2 separate regions of the Homo sapiens genome follow, and region 2 is linked to region 1. The links come from fine-mapping of genetic effects on gene expression. A gene starts in region 1. The other region holds a variant in brackets. All regions are shown on one strand. Distances are from middle to middle. Region 1 holds the start of GRIP1 (glutamate receptor interacting protein 1). Region 2 overlaps GRIP1 (glutamate receptor interacting protein 1).

Region 1 (15,834 bases):
TGGGGAATGTGTTAAAATGCCAAAGAACAGGCCACACTTCCAGGCAATTAAATCACAATCTCTGGGGTTGGATCCAGGCAACATTATTTTCTTAAGGTTACAAGGTAATTCCAATGGAGAGAAAAATTTAGAAACCCCTGAATTGGGTGCTCATAAAAATAGGAGATTTTAGACTCATCTTCTGATTTACTAAGAAAGTCAAGTTTGATTAATTTCCTTAATGTCCACCTCAAAGTCTTTCTTCCTATGCTTTCCTGTCTCTGTGACAAGAGTGTCCCTCTTGCTCACTCTAGCTGGCTGCCATCTGTCTCGTGGTCTCACACTCACACTGTCTTGCCTGGTTCTAGAGTTCATCCCTCTTCTAGTTTGCATCTTGAAATTTTACCTCCCTACTGGTTCTATCCTTTTAAAAAATGCTCAGATTTCTCCCATCCTATAATAGCCTTCCTTATCCCCCATGACCCCGCCCTCCACCCCCACAGGCTGCTGCCCATCTACAGCCTAACTTTCACCTTCAGACTTCTTAAAAGAGTGGTCTGCCCTTGTTGCCTTTAATGCAGAGAATCCTTATAATCTGGTTTGGACATCAATACCCTGTGAAAACTGTTCTCTCAAAGGTCAGCAATGACCCACTTACAAAACAGAAGGGCTGCTTCTCGCCTCTCCTTCTCTCATCTTTGCTTTGGTTTTTAGATATTACGGTATCCAAACGCTATTTCTCCCACTGTTTTTCTCTCTGCCACCTCTATTAGCTTAAGAAAGCCTTGGGGAAAATGTGTGGGACGTGTATCCTAAACACATTTCTCAGACAATATGTATCAGAAGACTTGAAAGTGAAGATACATGAAGGCAACAATTTAAAGCACAAAATAAATTCTTTAAAGACAATTCAGTATCATGTATTAGACTGAAAACTGGGAAACAAACTAAAGATATATTATCCACATAAGGAAATACTACAGAGACAGTAACAGTTTCCTATGACAAGTGTGTGCTAATGTGCACAAATGGGCAGAATATTAGGAAGAAGATGTAAGACAAAACATGTATTATACATATAATTTCAACTTATTAAAAAGCATAATAATTTGTAAATCAATTTGTTTTCCTCCATTGGTTTCCATTATTATGATGACAACATATCTTTAGTGATATTTAGTTTTACCTTTTCTCCTAATTCATCTGTTTTGAAAATGAATAGAAATTTCCTTAGTACAAATGTAACTTATTGTATTCTTCATATATTCAGCTATTTAATAATGTAGTTGGAATTATTAGTAAGAAGCTCTTTCTCACTTTCTAATACCCCGAGCTTTGCCTGAATTTAGGTGGTCATCATTGACTGAGACATCCAAGACCACTGCTTTTATTGCTTTTTGTAATGGCAAGGTCAAAGTTTCCTTGGTTTGAAGGGTGCAGTAACATCCTTTAAGGAGCTACATGTAATAAATATCTGGGTGCATTTTTTTTTTGGATATATGCGATACTGAAACAAATAATTATTTTAAAAATCTGCAAATAAGATTTTCTTCTGTATATTTAATAAAGCAGCAGTTACTAATTTTAAATTTAACATAATTCTCATGTATATGGGCAAAAAAGTGGTAAGAAACTAAAAGAGAGAAAAAGATGAGTTTCAAACACTGACGGCTTGCCTATCCCTAGAAACTATGTATTTTGCCTCCTCTCAAATAGTGGGAAGTTATCAAATTATATATTTTCCGCCAGAATAAAGTGAATTTACTAATATAAGAATTTCAAATAAATCAACTGTAGTAGAAAATTAAATCATTTTGTTATAGCTAACATGAGTATAAAACAGTTTTCACAAGTAATTTTTAATTTACAGATTAAGAAACTGAAATTTAGTGGGGGAAATTCAGTTTTTTTGTTTGTTTGTTTTTGCCACACAAGTAAAAATAGGAAAGCTAGGAAAGGTTGACATATCTTCTAATTTCTAAGTCTATTCTATTTCCCCTACCATAAGGAATGCTGAGAGATTAGTGTGGTGTTGTCTTGATTAATTTCTCTTTATTATTCTAGATAGGCAGGTCTATGGTTTCTATCCGTTTCTAGAAGAGAAAAAAAATGGCAAAAATGAAACACTGGGGTTCCTCCTGTCCTCCACTTGTGATCTTAGGAATGATTCTTAACTTCTCTGAACCTCTTCTTTTTCATCTGTATGGTGGGGATAATGACGATAATATTGCAAGATTTAAATGAGTTAGTACATGTAAAATGTTTAGAATAGTACCTGGCAGAAAGTAAGTGCTCAATAAATGTTAGCTATCCTTATTTCCATTCTTCCTCCTAAACATTTCCCAAAAGTATATAAGTTAATCGATTAGAATGCCTATCCTACATTGGCCCTCCTTTTCCCAGTAATGAACCAGATATTTCTTCCTAACCTGCTACAATCATATAAGAAGGGTGTAGACTCCTTCTTGTTTATATGGGGTCATACAAGGCATAGCCAAAATTTCCTCTGGAGGATGGGTACCTCCTGGAACGAGGTAAAGTATTTCTAGCATCCAATTCCCATTTGGAAGACAGGGGAGAAATAAATGCGCCATTATGATAATTCTAACTAGTTATATAAACGAAAAGCTTCAGTCCAGTGGAGAGTAAAGCGGTCCAAGCCACTGTTCAATGTAAACTCCCTCAAAGCATGGGCTAGAAGCACAGCAAGAAATCCATCACAATCTGGACCACGAGCAGCACTTGCGCGAGAACAAGACCTGCCTGGGACCCAGCTGCAGCATTCTCCTGTTCAAGTGGGGTCTCTCTATTTGCAAGAGAAATATGCCCCATGCCCTAGCAATAGATGAAACTCCAATAAAACAAGACAGACTTACTTTGTGAAATATCTATTAAGTGCATATTATTTTAAAAAGTTGATAGGCTAGAAAGATAAATACGTTAAATGCACTAGCTTTGATGGCATGAAATGAAGGGGTGGAGGCAAAGCAGAAAGGACATGGTTGCAGGTGAGATTTGGAAAGGGGTGGAAAGTTAACGAGGTGGAGGATACAGTTAAGTTGTTCCAGATGGCAGGATCTGACAGAGAAGGCCAGCGAGGGTTAGCAGAATGGATGAGGATGGGGAGACAGGAGAAATGAGGTCCAGCACAGAGAGAGAGAGCATTCTCAACCCAGATGATGATCAGTTCTGAATCATATCACAGAGTGGATGAGGAATCATTAGAGAAGACTGCTGAAGGAACCACAAGGCTAGACACAGACAGATGGGAAAGAGCAAAGTGACCAGAACAGAAAATCCAAGGCCACCAGCAAAGGAGCCATCAGGTTTGGAACACTGATACTGAACTCTGTGATGGATTCAGAATTCCTTGGATTAAAAGATTCTGCAGATGAGAAAAGATGGGAAATATTTTTCCTCTTCCATTAAGACAAAACATTTAAATGTGTTTCTTTAATTAAGATTACACTTAGGAAATGAGTTTCTAAATAGAAGAACTTTTAAACACAGGATGAGTGTCAGAGTTTAAAGGGATTTAGACGTCACCTGAGTAATCCATTAAAAGTTTATCAGACAAACTGTGAGATTGTTCTTGTCAGAGAGAATTGAGAATAAGATTACTGGTTGTCTGAGATGGTTGAGTTTCAGTTCTCTCTGGAAACAAGTCCTAGACGAATGTCTGACCTTCCCTTTCAAGCATAATGATTCCATGATTGGGGTAAGTGTAAGGAACAATGACTGAAAAAATGAGAGTGAGTGTGATCACAACCCAGCCTTTTAATCTTGCTCAGTGCCAGTGGAGAGAGCAATACCCATACATGCCCAGACAGCAGAAAAGGAGAAAAGATACTGAGGTTGGGAGGAGAAATCAGGAAGAAGAGAGGGAGAGAGAAAGAAAGTAGAATGCACAGCAGGGAGCAGTTCCCTGCCAGCCACAGATGTCTCACTTAGACACCCCATTGGGATGAAGGTCAACGGGGCTGCTTATAGTTTGTTAGTGGGAAAGGGACAGGGAGAGTTAATTCTATTTTAGGCCATATGTGTATTTGGGAAGAGAGAGAAAGTGAAGATAAGTAGAAAATAAAATGACACGTAGGCCAGCTATGATGAAAAATGTTGAAGTCTATACTAAAGTGAAGGCAAAGGTTTCCGACATGAGCTTTGAGCCAGTAGAGAAAAGACAGAGAGAGAGGGTGGGTGGCAGCAAAACAATGAAAGGTGCCCAGAGCCGTGCTCCCTGTGGAATGTCAGTAAATATTAATTGGCTGATGTTGGCATTGGTAGGCAGAGTGAAGCTTGTGAAAGAAAAATGCCATTGCCAGTGGAGCACGAAAGTTCAGATCTCGGAGCTCAAAATGGCAGCACCTGAGCAAGCAGCAGAGTCACATCCCATATCACCAGAGAAAGTGATTCTCTGCATATGAGGCCAAACTGTCTCAAGGAAAAGTAATCACACAATCATGACAAGAGAAAAAGAACAAAGTCTGTGGGAGCCATGAAAATATCTCCCCTTCTCTGAGAACATACTCCCTTCCCCTGAGGTATGGTAGCCCCTAGCTGAGAAACCAGGGCTGTCCCAGGTAAACAGCTGTGAAGGTAGGTGCCAAGAAGCCTAGATTTACCCACTCCAGAAAACCCTTTTGTCAGATGTCTCTGGAAACCTCACAAAATGTTATTTTGGGATTTGGCTCTAAGGTTGGGTAATTGGTAGACTCTCATTCTGGAGGAAGAAAAGAACGGCATTGCTTCTTTAGATTTCAATATTAGATGGGAAACGGAATGCTTTTGACGGTGCTTGGTGTTTTCATGAACCAAAGTTCCTCTCATAATGGCAGGCATGGGCCTTTTGGGTAAAGGTTATTTTCTTGCTCTTGTTCTACATTGGTAGGTACCTGATAAGGCAAAATGATTGAAACAGTGGCTTGAAACATTAATAAGAAAATGACTCAATTCCCAAGTCAGAGAAGTGCTAAGTTTACCTGAAATATATTCTACTATAATACTGTGGATCAGTGTCTATGTGGAGTGATCCAAGGACTTGTCTAGAAATACATGTTTTATACATCTTTTAAAATTACATCTGACCTAAAGAAAAAATATTTATTGTTCAATAATATATTCATTTTAAAAATGCTTTTTACACCTATAAATTGTCCCAGCCCAGAATTCTAAGTGCAAAAATGTCAGTGTCTGGCACATAGTAGGTACTTAATCGATATTTGTTAAGTATGTATTAGATATATGAAGAATGTAAGAATCAAGTAAAAATATCAAGAATGTGGGTGTTTGTAGAAAATTGTTTCCCTTTTATTCCATCATTTTCTCCTTAAGAAAATTAAGAAGAAATTGCAATTGCCATATTGCTTTTTCTTGTGGGTGATATCAACCACAAATAGCAAGGTAGTTTTGGAGTCATGAAGCAAACTTCCCCCTGCTAAGATCTGGGTAAGGTTTTAGCCACAAGAGGCCTAATAAAGCTCTTGAAGCATTTCCTAAGAGCTCACAGAAGATTTAAATGCCCTACTACTTTCAACTAGACAAATCCAATTCATTTTAACAAACAGTTTTGAAGTGCCTACTAAGTGTAATGCCTTGTGCTAAATGTCTGGAAGAGTGAGTGTTAGGTGGAGCCCTCAATGGGTATAAAGAAATATGTATGTTTGGGAGTTGAGGGTGAGGGTGTGGGAGTTGTGTGAGTAGGGAGAATGGGACAAGAAAGAAACTTCAAGTGTATATCCACCCCTGTCCCCAAATACACTCCTGACCCTAAAAGAAAGGTCATTTTAATATTGTAATTACATATGTTTCCTGGTTTTATCATTACAGCTTAAGAAAACAGCACCACAAGTATGGGTGGGGTGCTAGAACTCAATGAATCCACTTTGGAACAAGAAGCATGGGTGGAACTTGAACGTTGTTGGACAAGACTGAAGCAGATGGCAAGGCAAGGTACCGTGTTACTCAGGTGCATTCTTGTAAGTATTTGGACAGCCAGTTAAACACAAAGAAGAACCCAATTATGGCAAATTGATTCTGCAAAGAGATTTTATTTTAATCATCAACTGACAGTCTTAAGTTAAATACCAAATAGAGCAGACATAAAGATTTTGGAAAAAAGTGTGAGGTAGCAACTCCAAAGCAGTTATCAATACTTTCCTCAATTATCTAGATTTTTAGCGACTATCTTAGTAAACACTTAAATCTCCTTTCAATGCAGGAGATCAATGCTTCCATAAAATTCAGAAAACTGAGAAAGTTAAAAATATTTGTAAGAACTATAAATTGCTTGGGTTCACTCTCTTCCTTGTATGTAGTACTTATAAAAGAACTGATACAGATGAATAGAAAATACTGATTGTTTCATGTTTATGATGTAAGAAGACCATCAACTTCTCAACATCAAGATAAGTAAATGCCAAAATCAGGTCAGAAAAGAACTTTTCAGAATAAGGGCCTGCCTTTAAAAGTCTCAGCCAAAACCGTAACAGAAAGGATAGTCTCTTAGTCATGATTTATAAACAGAAATTGTACGTCTGTACCAATTGTAGAGGATAAAGTCAAAACAGAATTTACAGCCTCCTGCTAATAGCCTAATTTAAAATGTATAATCTTCCCTACATTTCCCCCAAAGTACCTTTTAAAGGACTCACTCTGCTATCCAAACAACTTGCAAATGCATTCGGTAAGTTGGTCTACAGTATTTATTCTCTTTCCTGTTATTGACTCAAGATCTATTTCTCATGATTTGCTTTGTGCTCATTCTTCTGCCAGATAAAATATTAATTGCATTTTTAGCTGCACTGCTGGTGATCAAAGAATTCTGATATGTCAAGCTAAACTGACAGAAATAGCATCCATTAACATATTTATAGGTTCAGAGCTTCTAGAACATAATTATATCCATTAATTACTCAACAGTACTCTATATTACAGGCTGAAAAAGAAAGGCATTTGCAACTAAATACTTTTACTCAGAATGAAGTTTTTTTTTAAATAATAAATTTTCTCTAAGGAAGGTTCTATCTAAAGGAAATAAGGCAAGAGAGCTCACATATCTATATGGACACAAGGCAGGATTTTTAAGGCATCCATTTACTAACTTTGCAATAGAATGCTCACAAAGTAAACGAGATGGCACATCCAGAATGGTTTCAAATAAAATAATACCTTAAATATTACAGAGAAATTTAATTACTATTTTAGAGTTCTAAGAGTGACAATCTGAAGCTGGTAATTCTTGATGATAAGATTCCGAGCAATGATTTTTACTTTCAAATAAACTTCTAGTATTACATAGGACCAAAGCATTTGGAATTACATACTTTTCTGAACATGCAATTCTAACACATAAAGAAATTAAAGCTGTCCAGGGAAAAAGCTCTTAAGATGTTGGAAAGTCATAGAACAAACAATTATTCTGTGGATCCACCAGCTGTGCGAGTCCTGAATCTGCCAGCTGCATTTAGTATATGTATCATAGAAAGGACAGTAACACACACTTGACTCCTTTTGGCCAGTTAATCAGCATGCAAAATGACGGTTTCCCACAATAACTTCAGCACCGGACCCAAACACATTCTCTTTTCAGCAAAGAATGAAGTCATTAAAAAAAAAATCACACAAGCTGCTTTCATAATTTCAGCACGAACACAACCGAGATGTAAGGACAGAAAGCAAAGCCGAGTCTACCTGTACATATGTATCTATACATATTTCACTGAGTTCTTTGTTGCCTGACAATAAATTGCAAAGGCAGTCATATTTGAAAGTAAAAACCATTAAACTGTGTTTATAGGATACTGCAACAGACTCGCTGAGGGAATAACAAGGAAAGCACGATACCTTTAGTAAGTCGCCTCAGAATTTGACAACGGCATTTAAAAGAGACAGCTATCATTCTTGCTCACTGCTTTCTGTGGCAAAGTGTACTCAAGGCTCTCTGCTCTGGTGGCTGCAGCAGCAGCAGCATATGAATTCCTTGCGCACATACCAGGAGAAAGGTAGTCCCAGTGGGGAGTGACAAAGCTTAATTCCTCTTGGCTGATGCAGAGGTCCGCTACATGTCATCTGGCAAATCTGTGTCATTCACTACTACTACCACCCCTGCCTGCCACAGCCTCCTCCCCCTTCACAATCACAATGGCTTAGAAAGTAATGCCGTTTCGATAGCAACAAAGCACCAAATTGTACAAAGCAGGGACGACACTGTGTGAGGAGCCATTCCATAAATCTAACGCTAAGCACTGAACAGTGCATTCTGTTTAAGGCAAAAGGCGATGTATCCAGTCAGTTCAGCCACCATCAGCCCCTTTCCTTCTCAGCATCAAGTCAGTGTCCTTTATATGTCTCATTTAATGGGAAATGCAAGTGAAATGCTTACACTCTTACTTTAGGAAGAAATGCATGGGTCATGTACTATGTTCTTTAAACAACAACCAAAAAAAAAAAAAAAAAAAAGGAAAGAAAAAGAGGGAGGGCCGTTTATATTTGGGATTGAGGAAAGAATCACAGTTCTGCCTATAGCGGGGAAGCAGCTCTAGGACAGAGACCTCTTTGGTACTTCCTGAACCTATGAGAGTTAAGGCAGTGTCTGTTTATAGAGGGAATACAAGAAAGGGTTAGGGCTAGGCAGACAATCAGGCAGATGGAGTCCCAGCCCCTTTAATCACCCTTCCAAAAAAGGACTTGGCTGGAAAGCAACACAGTCAAGACTGTTTCTAAAGATACCAGAAATAAAGGCAAACAAGGCCAAGTATTTCTATTTTTAATATACTTTATTATACTATTTCCCAAACAACCATCCCCCAAACCATTCTTCTCATTATGCAAATAAAACGGTCTTGCGACATAGCAGATATTTGTGAGTATCTGCTCCAATGGAGTGAAGAGCAAATTAACAAACCCTTCACAATCCATTCACAAAGTGATAAGAAGGCGGAGCACACCTCCTCATCTGCCAGCAGCAGCCTGCTCGCCATATAGTCAATACGAACTAACATTTGGTAGGGAATTTTAATCAAAATCCAGAATTCTCCCACAGGAGTTAACATAAACATTCAGGACAAAAAATTAGACAGTTGGCCAGGAAGTTTAAGAAAAAAAAAATCAATTAGTCAAAATGAAAAGATATATCACTGTCTAAACTACTTGATTAATATTTCTAGGACTTTATGAATTATTCATACAGTTTTATTCTCTACTCTTCAGGCTGTGAAAAAACTTTCAAGCTGGTTTTTAAAATAACTTCCAACATTCCAAATTTAGTGGTAAAACTTTCTTTTCTTCATTCATAAATTCAATATGAACTCAAACAATTTCAATCCACTGCTATTGAAATGCATATGCTTTGTATTTTGAGTCCAATAGAAAAATAATTTGTGTGTGAAAAACATCTGAATATCATAAGCATCTACTTTAAAGGTTTTTGAAAAGAACAGAATTCTTTTACCAAGGATGGTCTAGCTAAAGCAACCACTAATCAATAGAAAATACTATATTAAATGGACTGCAGTGCAAAATCAAATTTTTATAATTGTTCTGATTAGCATAAATCTTTCTTTGAATTTCAACCCATATTATGTTCATCTCTATTAGGTTATCCCTAGAAATAGTTTAGCCTCCTTGATATTTTTTTGCTTTAAATAGAAATATACCTTAGTACTAGAGAACTGAGTTACTAGCTAAAGTGAGATAAATACTTACAGTTAGCTCTTTCCAAGATTCTTCTCCAAATCTAACATATTTCCTAAAATCCAGGCACTCAGAATACGCAGCTGTCAATTACTATTAGTAGAATCTTGCCTGTGGAACACCACCACCCCAGCCCAGTCTATTCAAATACAACTCAAAACCATACAGGAATCTCTTGCCTTCTGCTATTTTGCAGACTCAAATCCAATTTGCTTTTTCCTTATGACTAAAATGATCAAATATTTTCCCCTTTTCCTAATATGCTTATTTTTTTTGTTTTGTTTTAAAAGCTCTATCCTCTGGTCCCAAGAAAGGTCTTCAGAACTACTAAAATGTCCTATTTCTTTGGCAGGGGAAATAACCCATCATGGAGCTCTTTGAAAGGTTTCTGAGAGCCCAAACTAGGGGATTGTTTTTTCTCTCTTTGAATACTGTGGCTGCCAATCCATATCTATCCTATTAGTCTGCCCAGGTGCAGCCCCAGGAATCTTACAGAAATGGAGCCTCCTGGAGTAATTCTTTTCCAGAAAATGAACGAATTCACCAGGTATTCCCATCTTCTTCCATTTCTGGCCTCGCTAATGCTTGGAGATTTCCTGGGGAGCCACTCCCAGGTCAACCTTCTTGCCCTAAACCCTTTGTCCTCCCTTTGCCTAATGCAAGCTTAGCCTCCCATCCTGAACTCTAGCACTGGTAAAATGCCTTCCAACAATGCAAGCCTTCTATCTCAAAATGTATCGATCTGTAGGATGAAGGTCTCAAATGGCCAAGGCAACCGGTGGAATGTGGACCACAGGCTCCTAACATGAGCTACTACAAGGCAGAGTGACCTACATTTCTTGGCTACCAGATCAATGTAAGCATGTGTCTTTGGGACCTGTCATGAACATGTTAATTATGGTGGCTCAGCTGTCTAGACAGTTCAAACTTTACAACATGCTCTGTGAGGGTCACCAAGTAGGGGTTATGGAAAAAGAAGGCAGGTAAAATTGTACAAAATACAGATTTGATTAAGCCCCAATGTGATCTGAAGAAGAGTGAGTGAGCTAGTTCAAGAGGTTTACCCCTCTTAAAAACACAAACACCTCAATACATGAAAACATGGGTTTGCTGGATTCAGGGCAGACTAGTCCCTTAAGATGATAATTCTTATTTCAGGGTTTCTTTAAAACATTAGTTTTGCTAAGGTGTAATACAAGTGTACCACGTTTACATAGAATTTAATGAATTAGAAGGCACTTTCACACATAATGTATCATGGAGCGACTCTGTTATAGGTTTTTGATGCAGAAAAGGAAAACTGGTTTCAGAGAAGGTGTTTTTCATCAAAGTCATTCAGCTAGTAAGTGGTAAAGAACAGGAAAGAACCATAGCTTCTCACCCCTGGCTAATCATTCTTTCTCCTCTTGTTTTTCACTGCTTCCTTGCCACCAATACAAAATGTGATCTAGTTTACAGGGGGACAAATTCAATTAACAAAGTACCTTTAAGTGCAGTTATCTTTTGACAGAGGGAAAAACTAGTGCCTATCACCTTCTCCCCTCTGAAGCACAGCTCATGGTTCTAGGACCACCCTGACCAGAAGGAACCAGAAACAGGTGACAGTTAAGGCAAGTACCGTCTGGTGAAAGACCATTACGTATCAAGTGTTTACAGGAATCCCTTCTCACTGCATGGTTAGCCCATCCTGACTGGCCTGTGTCATGCTGGTTTTGAAATATTTGGAATATCACCTCCATTGACAATATGGTACTAATTTTATCATAAGAAGGGGGTGGGTTGTGGTGTATGGACAAACAAAACCTTAAGATTGGCTCAAAGATTCCAATATAGTCTCAAAACCAAAGCATTCCACAGCTTCATCAGCAGGTGGCACACATAGCCCCATAATCTTATTCTAATTTTCTCATTTCCTTGATTCTCCGCCATTGTATTCATTCTTTTATATAACATCTCCATCCCAAAAATAAATAGCGCTGTTTGGAGGTTCTTCTGATTCTTAACAAGAAAGAATCATCATAAACCAAAAATGTTCTGCCATATGCCTAAACCTGGAAATTCATTTTGCAAAAAACCAAAACAATGAGGTTAATCCCACAAATACTCAACTATTTTATATCATTAGAATCAATTTGATTAAAGTGCTAAAATAATTTGCACTTTCTTCAACTTCATAAATCTTTCTGTTACAAAATATACCTGATAGATCCCATTTATTTGCTTATTCATTTAACTATTACATTTCTTTTCCTTTGCATGCTGTTGCTTAAAAATGCTTAACATGCTTAGCTCACTATTTAAACAGCATGGAACATCCTGACTTGGCTAGTATTGAATATACTGATCCCCACACCCCCTACCCTGCAACACATACACAGTTATTAAATGTTGTGTATTTCCCAAATCTTCCGGGTATTTTAAAACTCAGTGTTCTCGGAGGTCTTAAAATGCGACTCTCACCCACTTTTTCATCTCCTTACAGACAACGTCACTGACTCATTCTTAGCTTATTATAATCGGCCATTTTTACTTCCCTTTTCAAAGATGCCAAAAGCAACCATGAGCTCAAACATGTTATAATTCTTGTGACCACTGTCTGCTACTTAGTTCAACTAGTGTGTCAACATGAGACCAAACATTAGGGTCAGACAAGGGAGATGTACACTGAACAGAACTCGCCAGTAATGAGCTGTCATGAAGGACTATTAAAAAAGCAAGACCCAATTTGCTGACACAGGTTCTAAGGGTGTGAAAAGTTGGTGTAATTGCCCAAGACAGAATTTATCAGGCATTTTTTAAAGCAAATATTTTATGAGAAAACATTTTTATAGAAGTAATGATGCCCTTTAGGAAGTGTCATTAGGACATACTCTTGCAAATCTGGGGTGATTAAAAAGCACTTAGTAGCTCAGGGCCTCTGGTGTGTTGTGATATAAAAGGGTGGGTATAATGCACACTTCATGTGTCATTTGCTTATCTAGGCAGGGCTCTGATGCCCGTAACAGTGCCAAGGAAAGAAGGTTGCCTCCACTGAACATGAAGAGACCAGGAAAGCTCCTGTGAAGGTAACAACCTTAGAAATTCATCAGCTAAAAGCATCTGGTGGAAAATGTTAAAGATAGAATATGTAGAAATTGAGAAATGCTTGTACAAGAGGAAAAATCTACCAGAAATCATCCTCCTAAGAGCCTAGGTATGTCCAACTGTTTATGGAGGTATTATGTAGGAGAGAATGGTGTAATGGCCAAAAACACAGCTTGGAATCAAATTGCCTGACTTTGACTCTTGGCTTTTGCCACTAAATGGCTGCGTGACCTTGGGCAAGTTTCTTAACCTTTCTGTTCTTCATTTGCAAAACGGTAAAAATCATTTCTAGGCTTGTTTGAATGGTAAACTGAGTTTATCTGTGTAACGTGCCTAGAACAGAGAGCAGTAACAGCTTTTATTAGCCACTTTGTATTTGGTAGGAAATACAATTGTACAATTTGACACTTGCTTACAGAACCCAGACTCTTCCTTAAATTAGCTCCATGTGATTAGTATGGATTGGTTTGGTCAGAGAAATCATAAGCAGGTGGAATTGGGATTAACAAGTAAAACGCACCCTTTTCCACAACATTTTCTGTCATTACAATGGCACGAAGTAATTTCCCTTCTTTGACTCCTGCAACCTCTTCCTGTTCTCATGCCTCTTCTTTCTCTACCCTTAAATGTCGGAATTCCCCCAAGCTCTGTCACAGCATGTTGGTCACCTTCTTCAGCATTTTATCCTCTCCTAGGGCTCCAGCAATGACTTCTTTGCTTTGACTCTCAAATCTCAACTGTCAGCCCAAATTTGCTCCCTCATTTAAAACTCCCTTCCCCTGGCGGGGGACGGTGGCTCATACCTGTAATGCCAGCACTTTGGGAGGCCGAGGTGGGCAGATCACTTGAGGTCAGGAGTTCAAGACCAGTCTGGCCAACATGGTGAAACCCTGTGTCTACTAAAAACACAAAAATTAGCCAGGCGTGGTGGTGCACACCTGTAATCCCAGCTACTCAGGAGGCTGAGGCAGGAGAATCACTTGAACCCAAGAGGCGGAGGTTGCAGTGAGCAGAGATCCCACCAGTGCACTCTAGCCTGGATGACAGAGCAAGACTCTGTCGAAATGAAATGAAATGAAATGGAACAAAACGAAACGAAACGAAACAAAACTACCTTCTCTCATCCTTGAGTCCAACATCTGTGGGCAGCCTTCATGACCATCTCCAACTAGATTTGAACTGTATCAAGCTCCATTTCCTTCCCAGTAGGACACACGTTCCTCTTCCATGAGCTCACTACATCATCACCCTCTTTCTTAAGCTCACCTTTAAAATACCTCTTAATATACTCCCACCTGACTGCCAGCATCCTAGTCCAGACCTTCACAGTTACTGTGCACAGGAGTTTTCTCCTACAGACCTTTACTGATTACCTTGTTCTAGGCACTGAGGTTCTGGGCCCCACACATGGGTTCTTCCTCCTAACTCATCCCAGAATCATTGACCAACACTTGCTTTTATTTGTATGAATGTCTGAGTAGTTCTTTGGGGGCAGGGGGAAGTATTACTTTTCAAATTTTGTAGGGCTAGTCAAATTTTGTTCTTTTTTTTTAAGGGCTAAATTAATAAGTACTTTAATATAAATAATCTCATGGATTTAGGATATCATACAGCTGAGTTATGTCAGATACTTTGACCAACAATTTGCAGATAAAAGCACATTATTTGAATAATAAAGAAAAGTGGAAACCCAATAGGGAGAGGTTCTATATTTATCCAAATTAAAAAGATTAATTTTCAATACATAGACTAAAGCTGTCTTAAAAGAATGTTCATTTTCCACACTCCCAGGATATAGCGGTGGTGGGCTTATGCGCTACTAGGAAGGAAAGAAACACAGCTACTTCAAAAATCCAACCCCAACCATAAGGAGCAGTGATGTGCGCACAGCAGCTAGGTTAGATCAAGGGAAGAAATTAGATTTCTAAAACAGGTTGGATGAAGTAGTTTATTGACAGTACTCCCTCCATACCCAGCTTATCACCCTTTCTTGTTTTATTTTATTCCTATGTCACTAATCACCATCTAACACGCTACCTATTTGGATTATTTTTCTGTTTATTGTCTGCTGCTCCCTGCCCATGGCTTTTTTTAAAACTGAGGGCAGGATTTTTTGGTCTATTTTGTTCATTGTTTAGAACAGTACCTAGCACATAGCGCCAATGTTCAATAAACTTTTGTCGAATAAATAAATGTGAAAGGATTTCCCTTCTAGTGGATTTCTTTTATATGCAATACTGTTTGTAAAACTCTTATGGAAAAGAGGACGCTCATAAATTACTTTAAAAAAACAACAATAGCTCTGCCACTTTAAGAGAAAATTCTTCCAAATAACATGATTCTTGAATGTTAACTGTTTGCAGAGGAGAAAAAGGAAAAGGCATGTGTTTTGTGCCCACCTTTCCAGAGCACACCTCAGATTCATTCCTGGTGCTTCTGACAAGATCATAAGGACCCTGTTGTTCACCAAATATGAAGAAACATACAGCCCAGCTAGTTGTTCACTGAAGTCAGAGGCAGCAAGAGCAACAAAGAAAAAGGCAAAGTAAAGATGCTAAAATTAAAAATTTGTCTTGGTCTGTGTATGAAGGAAATACCAAATACACATTCATCCTGATAGTAGATTCTGGTCTAACATGCATAATTATAGCCTGTCAAGGACATAATGTATCTCTAAAGTAATTCATGCGTCTGTTTTTGGAAGCTCTAGTAATACATTGCTAAAAACTCTGTAATTCCATCTTCAATAGGGCTTTGTACTACAACAACCTCCAAACTAACCTGCTTGCTGTTCCAGCTGCTATTTTGATGACTTTCTTTTTGTGGCATAGGAAGGAGCTAAGTTTTCCATATTAAGAATGCATATATTAAAAACAAACTAACTACAAGACCTTCTTGCTGTTCCAGCTGCTATTTTGATGACTTTCTTTTTGTGGCATAGGAAGGAGTTAAGTTTTCCATATTAAGAATGCATATATTAAAAACAAACTACAAAGCCAGGCCAGTGGCTCACACCTGTAATCTCAGCACTTTGGGAGGCTGAGGCAGGAGGATCACTTGAGCCCAGGAGTTTGAAACCAA
Region 2 (15,834 bases), 270 kb before region 1:
CAAGAACCACTGGACACTACCTGAGTTACATTCCTTCAGTAATGGAAGACGACAAATGCAGAAGCTCCTGAAGGCAGGAGGGTGGCTGAATTCAGAGTGAGGGAGGAAAACGCCTACAACCCCAAGTGTTCCAAAAGATTTGGCCATTGTTAAATAAAGCTGAAATTCACTTTTAAAATATCCAAATACAGTAATGACCACTGATAGTCAACATTCATTGGGCCTCACTAGGTGCAAACTTATTGGTGAGTTATTAAATATATTACCTCCTTTAGGCCAGGTGCGATGGCTCACACCTGTAAATCCCAGCACTTTGGGAGGCCAAGGCAGGCAGCTCACCTGAGGTCAGGAGTTCGAGACTAGCCTGCCCAACATGGCAAAACTCCATCTCTACTAAAAATACAAAAAATTAGCTGGGCATGGTGGTGGACACCTGTAATCCCAGCTACTTGGGAGGCTGAGGCAGGAGAATCAGTTGAACCTGGAAGGCGGAGGTTGCAGTGAGCCGAGATTGTGCCATTGCACTCCAGCCTGGGCGACAAGAGCAAAATTCCGTCTCAAAAAAAAAAATATGTGTGTATATATATATACACACACACACACACACACACACACACACACACACACACACACACATATATCTCCTCCTTTAATCCTTAAAACAGCCATGTAAAGTAAGCATTAAATGGACATTTACAGATGAGGAAACTGATGCTCAGAGAAGTTAATTTGCCTAAATTTCCCAGATTGTCAGTTGTGAAGCCAGTCTGGCATTCTTAGTCTTTCATTCTACTGTTTCCCCCAGCTTGGGCTAGAAACAGAGTTAATTCAGACTCTCTTGAATGGCTCATTCAGCGCTTTCATCAAGTGATTAAAATTAATGGTCACTAACCAAGTCCAGTGGGCCTCATTCCTGTTTTAAGTCCTCTAATGGCCCCCCATTGGTTTCTGGGATAAAATTCAAATTTCTTAACATGATTTACAAGGCCCATAATGACTTGGCTCCAGTATACCTTTCTAGCTTACCTACTACCAAGTCCTTGCACACGTTATGCTTGAGCCATATCTGCCTACTAGAGTGTGCCATGCTCTCCCTAACTTTCTGCACCACTTCACAAATCCCTTCGAGACCAAGGTTGTTAGAATCTTTTCCTTGAGGTCCTCAGGCTGAAATGGATGCCTTCACATTCTCTTACCATTGTGGAATATTTTGTGCATATCCTTATGACATTCATCATATTGTTAATTATTGATTTTCTTGTTTCTCCTATTTGGTGGTAACTGATTTAAGGGCAGGATTGTGTCCCTTTTATCTAAGAACTGGTAGTCCATGGCACATTGCCTGATACTTCATAGACAATAAACGAATGCTGATGGCATGACTGAAAATCGAGGGCTTTAGCAGCATTTGGGAATAGTTCTACCATCTCCTTGGGTAAGGTACACAGCAGGGTAGCGAGACTTGGGAAGCTGGAAGAAATGCTTACATTTTGAAGTAGTATCTGTTAAACCCCAATTGCAGTACAAGCTAGCTTAGGAAACCAAGTTCCATCAAGTATAGTTATAAACTTCCTGTGACCAGAGAGAGAATCATCACTGAAGGATGGAGAGCAGCCAGCAGTTAAAGGACTGGAAAACTCCTGCAGTGCAGAGGGCCCACATTAGTATGAGCAATATTTCTGGGGGTGGAGAATATACGCTGAATATTACCATTCAAAAATATTGAGACGAAGCATGACAACTATTTAATGTGATAGTTCTAATCACCAGCATAATTTCAGATTAAGCATTATATCAAACTTTCAAAATCAGTGACTGTCCAAAGGGTAAATGCTTATTTTCCACTCAGTCATATCTTGATCAAGGATCAGAACGAATGCAGAGAAAGGGATTTCAGGAGGTAATTAGAATACAGATAGTCCCCACTTATTGAGTGGAGCATGGACTGTGCCAGTATTTCCTTCAGTAAGCTACAAGAGCTCCCTGAGATGGGTACTATTATGTAGACATTACTGAAAATGGGACCAAATCTCAGACAAGTTTACCAAGTTGCCCAAACTCTCACAGCTCAAATGTGGTAGAGCTGAACTTTAAACTGAGGTCTGATTTTTTTTTTTAATTTATTTCAATAGCTTTAAGGGTACAAGTGATTTTTCATTACCTGGATGAATTGTGTAGTGGTGAAGCCTGAGATTTTTGTGCACCCATCACCCAAGTGGTGTACACGGTACCCAATATGTAGTTGTTGTTGTCCCTCATCCCCCGTCTACCCTCTCTTCTTCTGAGTTCTTATATCATGTCTGGTTTTAAAACATTTGCTCTTTGTGAAGATTTAGTTTGCCTTTAAATAATCTGTGGTCAGGCTTTACATTTTGAATAATGTTTTTTTTTCCTCCCTTACTTTGCTCTGAATAAAAATGAATTCAGATACTCAAATTATATTTATGATGTTATGAGGGAAGAGGATACTAGGATCATATAAATTCTTCCAAATCAATAACTGAATAATTTTCAAAGAGTGATCTTTTATAAAACCATGTCTGAATGAGTATATATTTCTGTATATCAATATGAGAAAATCTGGTTTGGGTAAGCATATCTCTCATGCCAATATTTATAGTCTTATTTTGGGTGGTTGTATGTTTTTCAATGGAAGGTTTAGGATTTTAAAAACAGAGCCTCTTAAAATTAAAACATATTTAATAAGCACAATAACCATCATAATAGTATACATAGAGATTGTAGGGGAAGGGTATAAAGGGGGAAAATGAGGCAAAGGAAATCAGTAACTGAAAATAAGATCTAGCTCTCCAAGTGCTCAGTTGTTTCAGAAACTCCTGCCAACTGGTAGACACAGCCTGGCTTTGAAACTGGGTGCATTGCCAGCTGTGCACACTATACATATTCATCTCTGGCTTGGCTTTTTCACTTTGCAAGGAAGGTAGCTGACATCTGCTGAGCAGGGCAAATCATGCAAAACAGGTTTCTCCACAGGGCTTTGCCTCTTCACTAGGACAGAACCCAGGCTGATGCTAAAGGCTTCCTCTCTATTTTGAAATCAATCCCCAAAAGAAAGTGCAACTGAAGCAGGCTTGTAAGGAGAGAAATGCAAATGTTGGCACAGAAAATCAGTTGCTTAAGAAATAATGAGTGCAAACCTGTGCATATTTTTAAACATTGGTTATAAAATATATTTGGATATAATCATTATTATCAATTGTACTGATGGATGCAACTATAGATTTTTTTTTACTTGGAAAAGGAATCATAAACACATAGCCTGACATAACCGTGAACTCTAGATCTAGATGACCTGATTAACAAAATCCCAGAACATTGCCACAACTTCATTATTGGTTGCAATGAAATTATATACAGTAGACGTTCTCTTAACCAATCTCCACTTAACCAATTTACTGAATTAATTGTGGCTGTTCGTCTTCCACCATAAAATGTACAGACCAATGCCATGGCATGCTCCAGAGCAATAGGTTTCTTTATGTTGCCCCTCTGGGCTTCTGCTCCTGCTCCTGCTTGAGTTGTAAACTTCAAAATCTAGAGGCAATTATATTTATTCCTAAACCCGTTTATGCCAGCTGTACTTGTTATTTTAACTATGTAATTTAATTAATCTTATATAACCTATGAAATATGAATGTAGTTGTTCTATGAAAACAAAATCCAATGGTTTGGAAAGATTCAATAAGGGTTCGTTAGGCAAAAATCTATGGCCAGGCGCAGTGGCTCACACCTGTAATCCCAGCACTTTGGGAGGCCGAGGTGGGCAGATCACTTGAGGTCAGGAGTTTGAGACCAGCCTGGCCAACATGGCAAAACTCCATCTCTACTAAAAATACAACAATTAGCCAGGAAAGGTGACACACACCAGTAGTTCCAGCTACTCAGGAGGCTGAGGCACAAGAATTGCTTGAACCTGGGAGGTGGAGGTTGCAGTGAGCAGAGTTGGCGCCACTGCACTCCATGGCACACTCCAGCCTGGGTGTGCCACACAAAACAAGAAACAAACAAACAAAACATCTACTGTTAATTACCTAATGGAAAAACTCTACAACATTGGGGAAAACCAAAATCTAGGTGGAGGAAGAATTCAGATTGCTATAAATTCTTTAAAGTCTCACTGCATTAAAAACCAAACCAAACCAAAATAAAACTGGAAATCATAAAATATATATTGTGGATACGGTTTAGGCAAACAAACAAAAAGACTTGTAAGTATAATCAGCAGAACCATATTAATAGGAAAGGCCTTGACTTTACCCACGAGATTGGCAAAATTGTAAATTAAACGTTTACTTTATGGATCCATATCACATTCTGTAATTCCCCACATTAGCTGACTCTTTTGGTGAATGGACACTTTTCAATTGGCTCTATATTCTTATCATAATCAGATAAGATGTCTCTTATTTCAGGGCTACCCAAAGTGTGCTCCTTGCACCACAGCTGTGGCAGCATCTGGGTGTTTATTAGGAATCCAGAATCTCAGGTCCCACCTGGGGTGGTGCCAGGATCTGTGTTTTAACAAGCTCTTCAGATATGATTCTATGCCCTCCTAAGTTTGATTGGAGGGCCTAAAAAATGTGTATAGCCCTTTTGAAAAGCAACATGGGGCATGACTGACTCATCAGGAATCATAGACATTTCCTTTGTATTCTTACTCAGCCATCCTGCTTCTAGGAATATTTTCTTATTTCAAAAGAAAAAAAAAGCTGGATAAAGATATCTATGCATAAAGATGTCTATAAGAGTACTATTTACAATAATGAAACAATTGGAAGCAATATAGTGATTTAAGAAGAGAAGAAAGGTAAATCACAGGCAGTCAATAAAAATGATAGATATTAAGAGTTTATAAAACGATCAAATGTTTACAATGTAAAATTAGGTAAAAAAATGCAACATTCACTTGGTTATAGTTATGCCATATGAATACCAATAAAAACTAGAAAACTACCAGTTTCACTGTATTAGATGATGATTTAGATTTCATCTTTAAAAATTATTTTCATGCAATTATAATATGTTTTCTATAATGAAAATATCTTAATGATATCATTTACAAGCACCATTATTTAAAATTTGTACTACACTCTCAGCACAAAATTTAAAGACTCTTTTAGCTGTGAAACACTGCTGCCACATCACTAGCCAGCTGTTGTATGTAAAACATCAAGATCTAATATCTTTGGTGACAGATGGGCAGTTCGAAAAATCAGTTTTAACTAAGGATGCTCTCAATACCTGAATTATCTTCATCTTTGCGGATTTTGAGCTTCACCAGGTCTTCACATTGCTGGAGGATCTGAACTGCATCTTCCATGGAACAGTTGTCCAGCCGGATATTATCTATTGCGAGCAATTTATCCCCAAGTTCCAGGGTCCCAGTTCTGTTAGTGAATGCAAAGTAACACATGACTAATGATGAGCACTTAACTAGGCCATTTAAAGAGGCATTAAGCATAATGCAGCATTATGGTAGTCTTTAGAGGAAAAGAGGTTCAACTGTTTTTAAATTGTACTTCATTGACAACTCCCTCCCTTCTTCTAGTCTTATTTGGGTTGCCTGCCATGATATTAAATTGCAGAGTATTAAAAACATTTTTTCTTATACTTTTTTCAATTAAACAAGAACATATGTGTCACTCAGGAAGCATACAATTCCTAGGAAGGGAGGTAATGGGCGAGGGTCTGCATAGACCCAGGTATCCTTGTCTTTCTCCATATTGTTGTATTACTTTTGATCCTTGGTAGTCCAGATACTAGGAGAGCATTAAGAGAATGACAGAAGGCAAGGTGTAATAGAGTTAGTGGAAGCCTAAGGCTTGCACCTCTGCTACTTCCACTTGCATCTGGAAACTCACTATGGCCAGAGTAGCATGAAAATTTATAGATGAATCCATAGCTTCTTATTTGGAAAGTGGCCACTGAGACTCTAAAACTGGCTGTGGACCAGGGTAGGTCTGTTGAAAAAAATTTTAAGGTCCATAATGAAACAACAAAAAAAATAATGTGAATGTAGTATGTATATGTTTCTATGTGTGTATATGTATATATACACAGATTTGTAAGAACAGCCTTTTATGCATTATATCTGTGCCAGAGACTGCTAATTGTCTCCCAGCATCCATTCTCCCTTCCCTTCTTTTAAGTTACCCTCTAAAAATGCATGCCCCAGACTCTCTGGGGACCCTCCCCACCTCCTGCCTGTAGCTAGAAAATGGTAACAGGAGGGAGGCGGAGCAAGGTGGCTGAATAAAAGCCTCCACTGATCATCCTCCTTGCAGGAACACCAAATTTAACAACTATCCATACAGAAAAGCACCTTTATAAGAACCAAAAATCAGATGAGCAATCACAGTACCTGGTTTTAACTTCATATCATTGAAAGAGGCACTGAAGAGGGTAGGAAAGAAAGTCTTGAACTGATGATGCCGGCCCCTCCCCCATTCCTTCTGCAGCAGCCACATGGCATGGAGAGAAAAACTGTGCACTTGTGGGAGGGAGAACACAGTGAGGGAGAGACTGCATTGAAACTCAGTGCTACCCTGTCACAGCGGAAAGCAACACTGGGCAGAAGTCAGCTGATATCCACGGAGGGAACATTTAGATCAGCCCTAGGCAGAGGGGAATCACCCATTCCGGTGGTCAGAACTTGAGTTCCAACACGCCTCACTGCTGCACGCTAAAGTGTTCTTGGGTACTAAATAAACTCAAGACAGTTTAAAGCCACAAAGACAGCAATTCCTGGACAAGCCCTGATGCTGTGCTGAGCTCAGAGCCAGTAGACTTGGGGG[G/T]CATGTGACCTAGTGAGAAACCAGCTGGGGTGGCTAAGTGAGTGCTTGCAACACCCCTCCCCTAGCCCTACACAGCACAGCTCACAACTCCCAGAGAGAGTCCTTCACTCTAACTGAGTAGAGAAGAGGGGAGAGTAAAGAAGACTTTGTCTTGCAACTTGGATATCAGCTCAGCCATAGTACGACAGGGCACCGGGCAGAGTCCTAAGGCCCCTTTTCTAGGTCTTTGCCCCGGGATAACATTTCTAGACACACCCAGGGCTGCAAGGGAACCTGCTGCCTTGAAGGGAAGGACCCAGTCCTGGCAGCATTTTTCACCTGCTGACTAAATATCCCTCGGGCCCTGAATAATCAGCAGCATGGCTGGGCGCGGTGGCTCATGCCTGTAATCCCAGCACTTTGGGAGGCCGAGGTGGGTGGATCACTTGAGACCAGGAGTTCAAGACCATCCTGGCCAGCATGGTGAAACTCGGTCTGTACTAAAAATACAAAAGTTAGCCAGGCGTGGTGGTGCACGCCTGTAATCCCAGCTATTCGGGAGGCTGAGGCAGGAGAATCACTTGAACCTGGGAGGTGCAGGTTGCAGTGAGCCGATTGCACCACTGCACTCCAGCCTGGGCAACAGAATGAGACTCTGTCTCAAAAAATAAATAAAATTAAATATAATAAAAAAATAAAATCAGCAGCAGTAGTCAGGTAGTACTTGCTGTGGGCCTTAGGTGAGACTCTGAGTTGTGCTGGCTTCAGGTGTGACCCAGCACATTCCCAGCTGTGGTGGCTATGGGGAGAGGCTGTTTCTGCTTGAGAAAAGCAGAGGAATAGTAAAAAGGACTTTATCTTGAAGCTTAGGTACCAGCTCTGCAACAGTAGGGTAGAGTACCAAGTGGGCTCTTGGGTTCCCTGATTCTAGGCCTTAGCTCTTGGACGTTTGTGGACCTGCTCTGGGACAGAGGGGAGCCCATCGCCTTGAAAGAAGAGTCCCGGCCCTGGCAGCATTCGCCACAAGCTGACTGAAGAGCCTTTGGGTCTTGAGTGAACATCAGCAATAGCCAGGCAGTACTTGCCATGGGCCTGGAGCAGTGGTGGCCAGGGGGAGAGACTTCTCTCCTTGAGGAAAGGATGGGAAGGACTTTGTCTTGTGTCTTGGGTGCCAGCTCAGCTATAGTAGAATAGAGCACCAGGTAGATTCCTAAGGTTTTTGACTCTAGGACCAGGCTCCTAGATGGCATCTTTAGACCTGCAAGGGGCCAGGGGGAGCTCACTGCCCTGAAAAGAAGGATACTACCCTGGCTGGCTTTGCCACCTGCTGATTGTAGAGCCTTTGGTCCTTGAGTGAACATGGCCTAGTGGTAGCCAGTAAGGGTTTACTGGCAGCCATAGTTGAGACCTAGTACCACGTTGGCTTCAGGTCTGAACCAGCATAGTCTCAGTGGTGGTGACCAAGGGGTGCTTGTGTCACCCCACCACCCCTCAGCTTCAGGCAGCTCAGCACTGAGAGAGAGACTATATCTGTTTGGAAGAAAAGGAAGAGAACAAGAGTCTCTGCCTAGTAATCCAGATGATTCTTCTGGATCTTACCCAAGACCACCAAGGCAGTATTTTTGAGTCTGCAAGAGCCATAGTGTTACTGGACTTGGGGTGCCCCCTAATGGAGATACAGGTGAAGTGACCAAAAACTTAGATCACAACACCCAAGCCCCTTCGAATACTTAGAAAGCCTTCCCAAGAAGGACAGGTACAAACAAGCCCAGACTGCAAAGACTATAATAAATACTTAACAATTCAATTCTCAGACACCAATGAACATCCATGAGCATCAAGACCATCTGAGAAAACACGACCTCACCAAGTGAACTAAATAAGGCACGAAAGACCAATCACAGAGAAATAGAGATGTATGGCCTTTCATACAGAGAATTCTAAATTACTGTTTTGAGTAAACAATAAAGTTTTGAGTGTGTGATAATACAGATCATAAATTCAGAATCCTATCAGATAAATTCAACAAAGAGATTAAAATAATTTTAAAAAATCCAGCAGAAATTCTGGAGTTGAAAAATGCAATTGACACACTAAAAAAATGCATCAGAGTCTCTTAACAACAGAATTGATGAAGCAGAAGAGATAATTAGTGGCCGGGCGCGGTGGCTCACGCCTGTAATCCCAGCACTTTGGGAGGCCGAGGCGGGCGGATCACGAGGTCAGGAGATCGAGACCATCCCGGCTAAAACGGTGAAACCCCGTCTCTACTAAAAATACAAAAAATTAGCCGGGCGTAGTGGCGGGCGCCTGTAGTCCCAGCTACTTGGGAGGCTGAGGCAGGAGAATGGCGTGAACCCGGGAGGCGGAGCTTGCAGTGAGCCGAGATCCCGCCACTGCACTCCCGCCTGGGCGACAGAGCGAGACTCCGTCTCAAAAAAAAAAAAAAAAAAAAAAGAAGAGATAATTAGTAAGCTTGGAGACAGGACATTTGAAAATACACAGCCAGAGAAGATGAAAGAAAAAAAAAAGCTGGGCCAGGCATGGTGGCTCACGCCTATAATCCCAGCACTTTGGGAGGCCGAGGTGGGCAGATCACCTGAGGTCAGGAGTTCGAGACAAGCCTGGCCAACATGGTGAAAGCCCGTCTCTACTAAAAATACAAAAAAAAAAAAAAAAATAGCTGGGCATGGTGGTGTGCAGCTGTAATCCCAGCCACTTGGGAGGCTGAGGCAGGAGAATCGCTTGAACCCAGGAGGCAGAGGTTACAGTGGGCCGAGATTGCACCACATCACTCAGCCTGGGCATCAGAGTGAGACTCTGTCTCAAAACAAACAAACAAACAAACAAACAAACAGACAAACAATGAAGCACACCTACAAGATCTAAAAAATAGCCTCAAAAGGCCAAATCTAAGAGTTATCGGCCTTAAAGACGAGGTAGAGAGAGGGATGGGGTAGAAATTTTATTCAAAGGGATAATAACAGAGAACTTCCCAAACATAGAGAAAGATATCAATATTCAAGTACAAGAACCTTATAGACCACCTGCAGGAATTTCAGCAACTACAAATGCAAAATAACTGAAATCATAACAGTCTCTCAAGACCACAGCACAATCAAATTAAACCCAAGATTAAGAAATTCACTCTAAGCCAGGGTTTTATGAATAGAACTCTGATCTTCTTGGGATGGAGCCCCTTGCAGGAGGGGAAGCCATGGTCTCTCTTGTTCAGTTGACTTAGCCTTTCCTGCCTGCTGGCTCTGGAGGGTCTGGGTGGTCTGGATGAGGGTGGTTCCCCAAATCACAGTGCACCTGCTCTGTCAAGCGGCAGCCAGACTGCTTTTTTAAGCGGGTCCCTGATACCGTTCCTCCTGACTGGGTGTGACCTCCCAACAGGGGTCTCCAGGTCTCCAGATCGGCATCAGGTCAGTGCCCCTCTGGGACAGAGCTCCCAGAGGAAGGAGAAGGCTCCCATCTTTGCTGTTTTGTAGCCTTTGCTGTCACAGGAGGGATCCAGGCTTGGGGTCTGGAGTAGACCCCCAGCAAACCACAACGGCACTACAGAAGGGGGCCTGACTGTTAAAAGAAAAACAAATAAGCAGAAAGCAACAACGGTAACATCATTAACGAAAAGACCCCACAAAAACTCCATTCACAGATCAGCAACCTCAAAGATTGAGGGTAGATAAGTTCACAAAGATGAGAAAGAATCAACTTAAAACTGCTGAAAACTCAAAAAGCCAGAGTGCTTCTTCTCTTCCAAATAACTGCGACACTTCTTCAGCAAGGGCACAGAACTGGGCTGAAGCTGAGATGACTGAATTGGCAGAAGTAGGCTTCAAAAGGTGGGTAATAATGAACTTCACTGAACTAAAGGAGCATGTTCTAACCCAATTCAAATAAGCTAAGAATCATAATAAAACATTACAGGAGCTGATGACCAGAATAGCCAGTTTAGTGACAAACATAAATGACCTTATGGAGCTGAAAAACACAACATGATAACTTCACAACGCAATCACAAGTGTCCATAGCCAAATAGACTAAGTGGAACAAAGAATCTCAGAGTTGAAGACTATCTTTCTAAAATAAGACAGGCAGACAAGAATAGAGAAAAGAGAATAAAAAGGAATAAACAAAACCTCCAAAAATATGGGATTATGTAAAAAGACCAAATCTATGACTGATTGGGGTACCTGAAGGAGAAGGGGAGAACAGAACTAAGTTGGAAAATGTACTTCAGGATATAATCCAGGAGAACTTCCCTAGCCTAGCAAGACAGGCCAACATTCAAATTTAGGAAATCCAGAGAACCTCAATAAGATACTACAGGAGAAGATCAACCCCAAGACACATAATCGTTGGATTCTCCAAGGTCGAAATGAAAGAAAAAAATGTTAAGCATAGCCAGAAAGAAAAGCCAGGACGCCTACAAAGGGAAGTCCATCAGACCAACAGCAGACCTCTCAGCAGAAACTCTACAAGCCAGAAGAGTTTGGGGGCCAATATTCAACATTCTTAAAGAAAATAATTTCCAACCCAGAATTTCATATCTGGCCAAACTAAACTTCATAAGCAAAGGAGAAATAAGATCCTTTTCGGACATATAAATGCTGAGGGAATTCATCACTATCAGGCCTACCTTGCAAGAGCTCTTAAAAGAAGAGCTAAATATGGAAAGGAAAAACCATTACCAGCTGCTACAAAAACACACTGAAATGCACAGACCAGTGACACTATGAAGCAACCACATAAACAAGTTTGCAAAATAACCAACTAGCATCATGATGACATGATCAAATTAACACATATCAACACTAAACTTAAATGTAAACAGGATAAATGCCCCAGTTAAAAGACACAGAATGGCAAACTGGATAAAGAGAGAGCCAAGACCTATTGGTATGCTGTCTTCAAGAGACCTATCTCACATGCAGTGACACACATAGGCTCAAAATAAAGTGATGGAGTAAAATTTACCAAGCAATGAAAAACTGACAAAAGCAGAGCCTGCACTCCTAATTTCTGACAAAAGATACTTTAAACCAACAAAGATAGAAAAAAAATGTTAAATTCAACAAGAAGAGCTAAGTATCCTAAATATATATGCCCCTAATACAGGAGCACCCAGATTCATAAAGCAAGTTCTTAGAGACCTATGAAGAAACTTATACTCCCACACAGTGACAGTGGGATATTGTAACACCCCGCTGACAATATTAGACAGATCATCGAGACAGAAAATAAACAAAGATATTCAGGACTCGAACTCAGCTCTGGATCAAGTGGACCTGACAGATATCTACAGAACTCTCCACCCCAAAACGACAGAATATACATTCTTCTCATTGCCACATGACACTTACTCTAAAATTGATCACATAATTGGAAGTAAAACATTCCTCAGCAAATGCAAAATAACTGAAATCATAACAGTCTCTCAGACCACAGCACAATCAAATTAAACTCAAGATTAAGAAATTCACTCTAAACCACACTACTACTTGGAAATTGAACAGCCTGCCCCTGAGTGAACCTTGGGTGAATAATAAAATTAAGGCAGAAATCAAGAAGTTCTTTGAAACTAATGAGAACAAAGAGACCAACAACCAGTTCTGAAATTGAGACAGTAATAAATAGGCTACCAACCAAAAAAATCCCAGGACCACATGGATTTACAGCTGAATTCTAACAGAGGTACAAAGATGAGCTGGTACTATTTCTTCTGAAACTATTCCAAACAATTGAAAAGGTGGGACTTCTCCCTAACTCATTTTATGAGGCTAGTATCATCCTGATACCAAAACCTGGGAGAGATATACAACAGCAAGTAAAAACTTCAGGCTCATATTCTTGATAAACATGGATGCAAAAATCCTCAATAAAATACTGGCAAACTGAATCCAGCAGCACTTTAAAAAGTTTATCCACCACGATCAAGTTGGCTTCATCCCTGGGATGCAAGGTTGGTTCAACATACACAAAACAATAAATGTGATTCATTATATAAACAGAACTAAAGACAAAAACCACATAATTACCTCAATAGATGCAGAAATGGCCTTCAATAATATTCACCATCCCTTCATTTAAAAACTCTCAATAATCTCGGTATTGAAGGAACATAACTCAAAATAGTGAAAGCCACATAGGACAAACCCATAGCCAATATCATACCGAATGGGCAAAAGCTGGAAGCATTCACCTTGAAAACTAGCACAAGACAAGGATGCCCTCTCATCACTCCTATTTAACATAGTATATTGGAAGTTCTGACCAGGGCAATCAGGCAAGAGAAAAAAATAAAGGGTATTCAAATCAGAAGAGAAGAAGTCAAATTGTCTTTGCAGATGACATGATCCTATATCTAGAAAACCGCATCATCTCAGCCCAAAAGCTTCTTAAGCTAATAAGCAACTTCAGCAAAGTCTCCACATACAAAATCACTGTGCAGAAATCACTAACATTCTTATACACCAACAATAGGCAAGCAGAGAGCCAAATAATCAAAGAACTCCCATTCACAATTGCTACAAAGAGAATAAAATACCTAGGAATATAGCTAATAAAGGAAGTGAAGGACCTCTTCATGGAGAACTACAAACCACTGCTCAAACAAATCAGAGAGGACACAAACAAATGGAAACACATTCCATGCTCATGGATAGAAAAAATCAATATCATGAAAATGACCATACTGCCCAAAGTAATTTATAGATTCAATACCATGCCCATTAAACTACCATTGACATTCTTTGCAGAATTAGAAAAAAACTACTTTAAAATTCATATGGAATAAAAAAAGAGCCTGTATAGCCAAACCAATCCTAAGCTAAAAGAACAAAGCTGGAGGTATCATGCTACCCAACTTCAAACTATACTACAAGGCTACAGTAACCAAAACAGCACGGTACTGGTACAAAAGCAGACATATAGACCAAAGGAACAGATTAGAGAACTCAGAAATAAGACCACACACCCATAACCATCTGATCATCAAGAAACCTGACAAAAACAAGCAATGGGAAAAGGATTCCCAATTTAATACATGGCACTGGGAGAACTGGCTAATCGTATGCAGAAAATTAAAACTGGACCCCTTCCTTACACCTTATATAAAATAAAATAAAATAAAATAAAATAAAATAAAATAAAATAAAATAAAATAAAATGGATTAAAGACTTAAATGTAAATCCCAAAATTATAAAAACCCTAGAAGAAAATCTAGACAATACCATTCAGGACATAGGCACAGGCAAAGATTTCATGACGAAAATGCCAAAGGAAAATGGCAACAAAAGAAACTTTGATAAATGGGATATAATTAAACTAAAGAGCTTATGCACAGCAAAAGAAACTATCATCAGAGTGAACAGACAACATACAGAATGGCAGGAAATTTTCACAATCTATCCATCTGATAAAGGTCTGATATCCAAAGTCTACAAAGAACTTCACTTCTCAAAAAAAGATATTCATGCAGCCAGCAAACATGAGAAAAAGCTCGTCATCACTGATCATTAGAGAAATACAAATTGAAATCATAATGAGATATCATCTGATGCCAGTCAGGATGGCAATTACGAAAAAGTCAAGCAACAACAGATGCCGGTGAGGTTGCAGAGAAAAAGGAATGCTTTTACATGGTTGGTGGGAATGTAAATTAGTTCAACCATTATGAAAGACAGTGTGGCGATTCCTCAAAGATATAGAAGCAGAAATACCATTTGACCCAGCAATCCCATTACTGGATATATACCCAAAGGAATGTAAATTATTCTATTATAAAGATATATGCACGCTTATGTCCACTGCAGCACTATTCACAATAGCAAATACATGGGATCAACCCAAATGCCCATTAATGATAGACTGGATAAAGAAAATGTGATATATATACACACAGAATACTATGCAGCCATAAAAAGGAATGAGATCATGTCCTTTGCAGGTACATGGATAGACCTGGAAGGCTTTATCCTCAGCAAACTAACACAGAAACAGAAAACCAAACACTGCATGTTGTCACTTATAAGTGGGAGCTGAACGATGAGGACACATGGACACATTGGAAACAACAACATACACTGGGGCCTGTCATGGGTGAGGTGATGGGAGGGAGACCATCAGGAAGAATAGCTAATGGAGACTGGGCTTAATACCTAGATGATAGGTTGATCTGTGCAGCAAACCATGGCACACATTTACCTATGTAACAAACCTGCACATCCTGCACATGTACCCTGGAACTTAAAATAAAATTTGAAGAAAAAAAAAACACGACGAATTTTGTAAACTATGCAGACACATGGAAATGAAACAACCTGCTTCTGAGTGACCTGTGGGCCAATGAAGAAATTAATAAGAAAATTAAAAAATTTCGTGAAACAAATGATAATGGAAACACAACACACTAAAGCCAATGAGATACAGCAAAAGCAGCACTAAGCAGGAAATTTTTAGCTATAAGTGCCTACATCAAAAAAGAACAAAGACTTCAAATAAATAACCTAACAATGCATCTTAAAGAATCAGAAAAGCAAGAGCAAACTGAACCCAAGATTAGTGGTAGAAAATAAATAATAAAGATCAGAGCAAAAACAAATGAATTTGAAATGAAGAAAACAATGCAAAGATCAATGAAACAAAATGTTTTTAAAAAGGTGAGCAAAATGGACAAAGCTTTAGCAAGACTAATAACAAAAATAAAAAAAGGAGAAGACCCAACTAAATAAAGTCAGAGATGAAAAAGGAGACATTATAACTGATATCACAGAAATTCAAAGGATCATTAGTGGCTCCTATGAGCAACTATATGCCAATAAATTAGAAAAGCTAGAGGAAATGGGTAAATTCCTAGACTCATACAATGTACTAACATTGAACTATGATGAAATTCAAAACCTGAACAGACCAATAATAAGTAACATGATTGAAGTCATAATAAAAAGTCTCCAAGTAAGGCAAAACCTGGGACCCAAAGGCTTCACTGCTGAATTCTACCAAACATTTAAAGAACTAATATAAATCCTGCTA

Evidence for each region.
Region 2: its variant is fine-mapped to the expression of GRIP1 in whole blood (TOPMed, PIP above 0.99). The same link has a PIP of 0.9 or more in monocytes.

What each region holds. Positions count from the first base shown.
Region 1 is chr12:66,671,029-66,686,862 of GRCh38, forward strand. It overlaps GRIP1 (glutamate receptor interacting protein 1), which reads right to left and starts at 8,048. Exons shown (of 25, transcript NM_001366722.1): 1 at 7,822-8,048. The coding sequence starts at 7,876.
Region 2 is chr12:66,401,021-66,416,854 of GRCh38, forward strand. GRIP1 (glutamate receptor interacting protein 1) reads right to left here. Exons shown (of 25, transcript NM_001366722.1): 16 at 5,263-5,408. Among named protein-coding and RNA genes, the nearest start is that of HELB, 110 kb to the left of the region's middle. RefSeq lists an enhancer at 6,805-7,305. The variant G/T (reference allele first, on the strand shown) is at 6,816.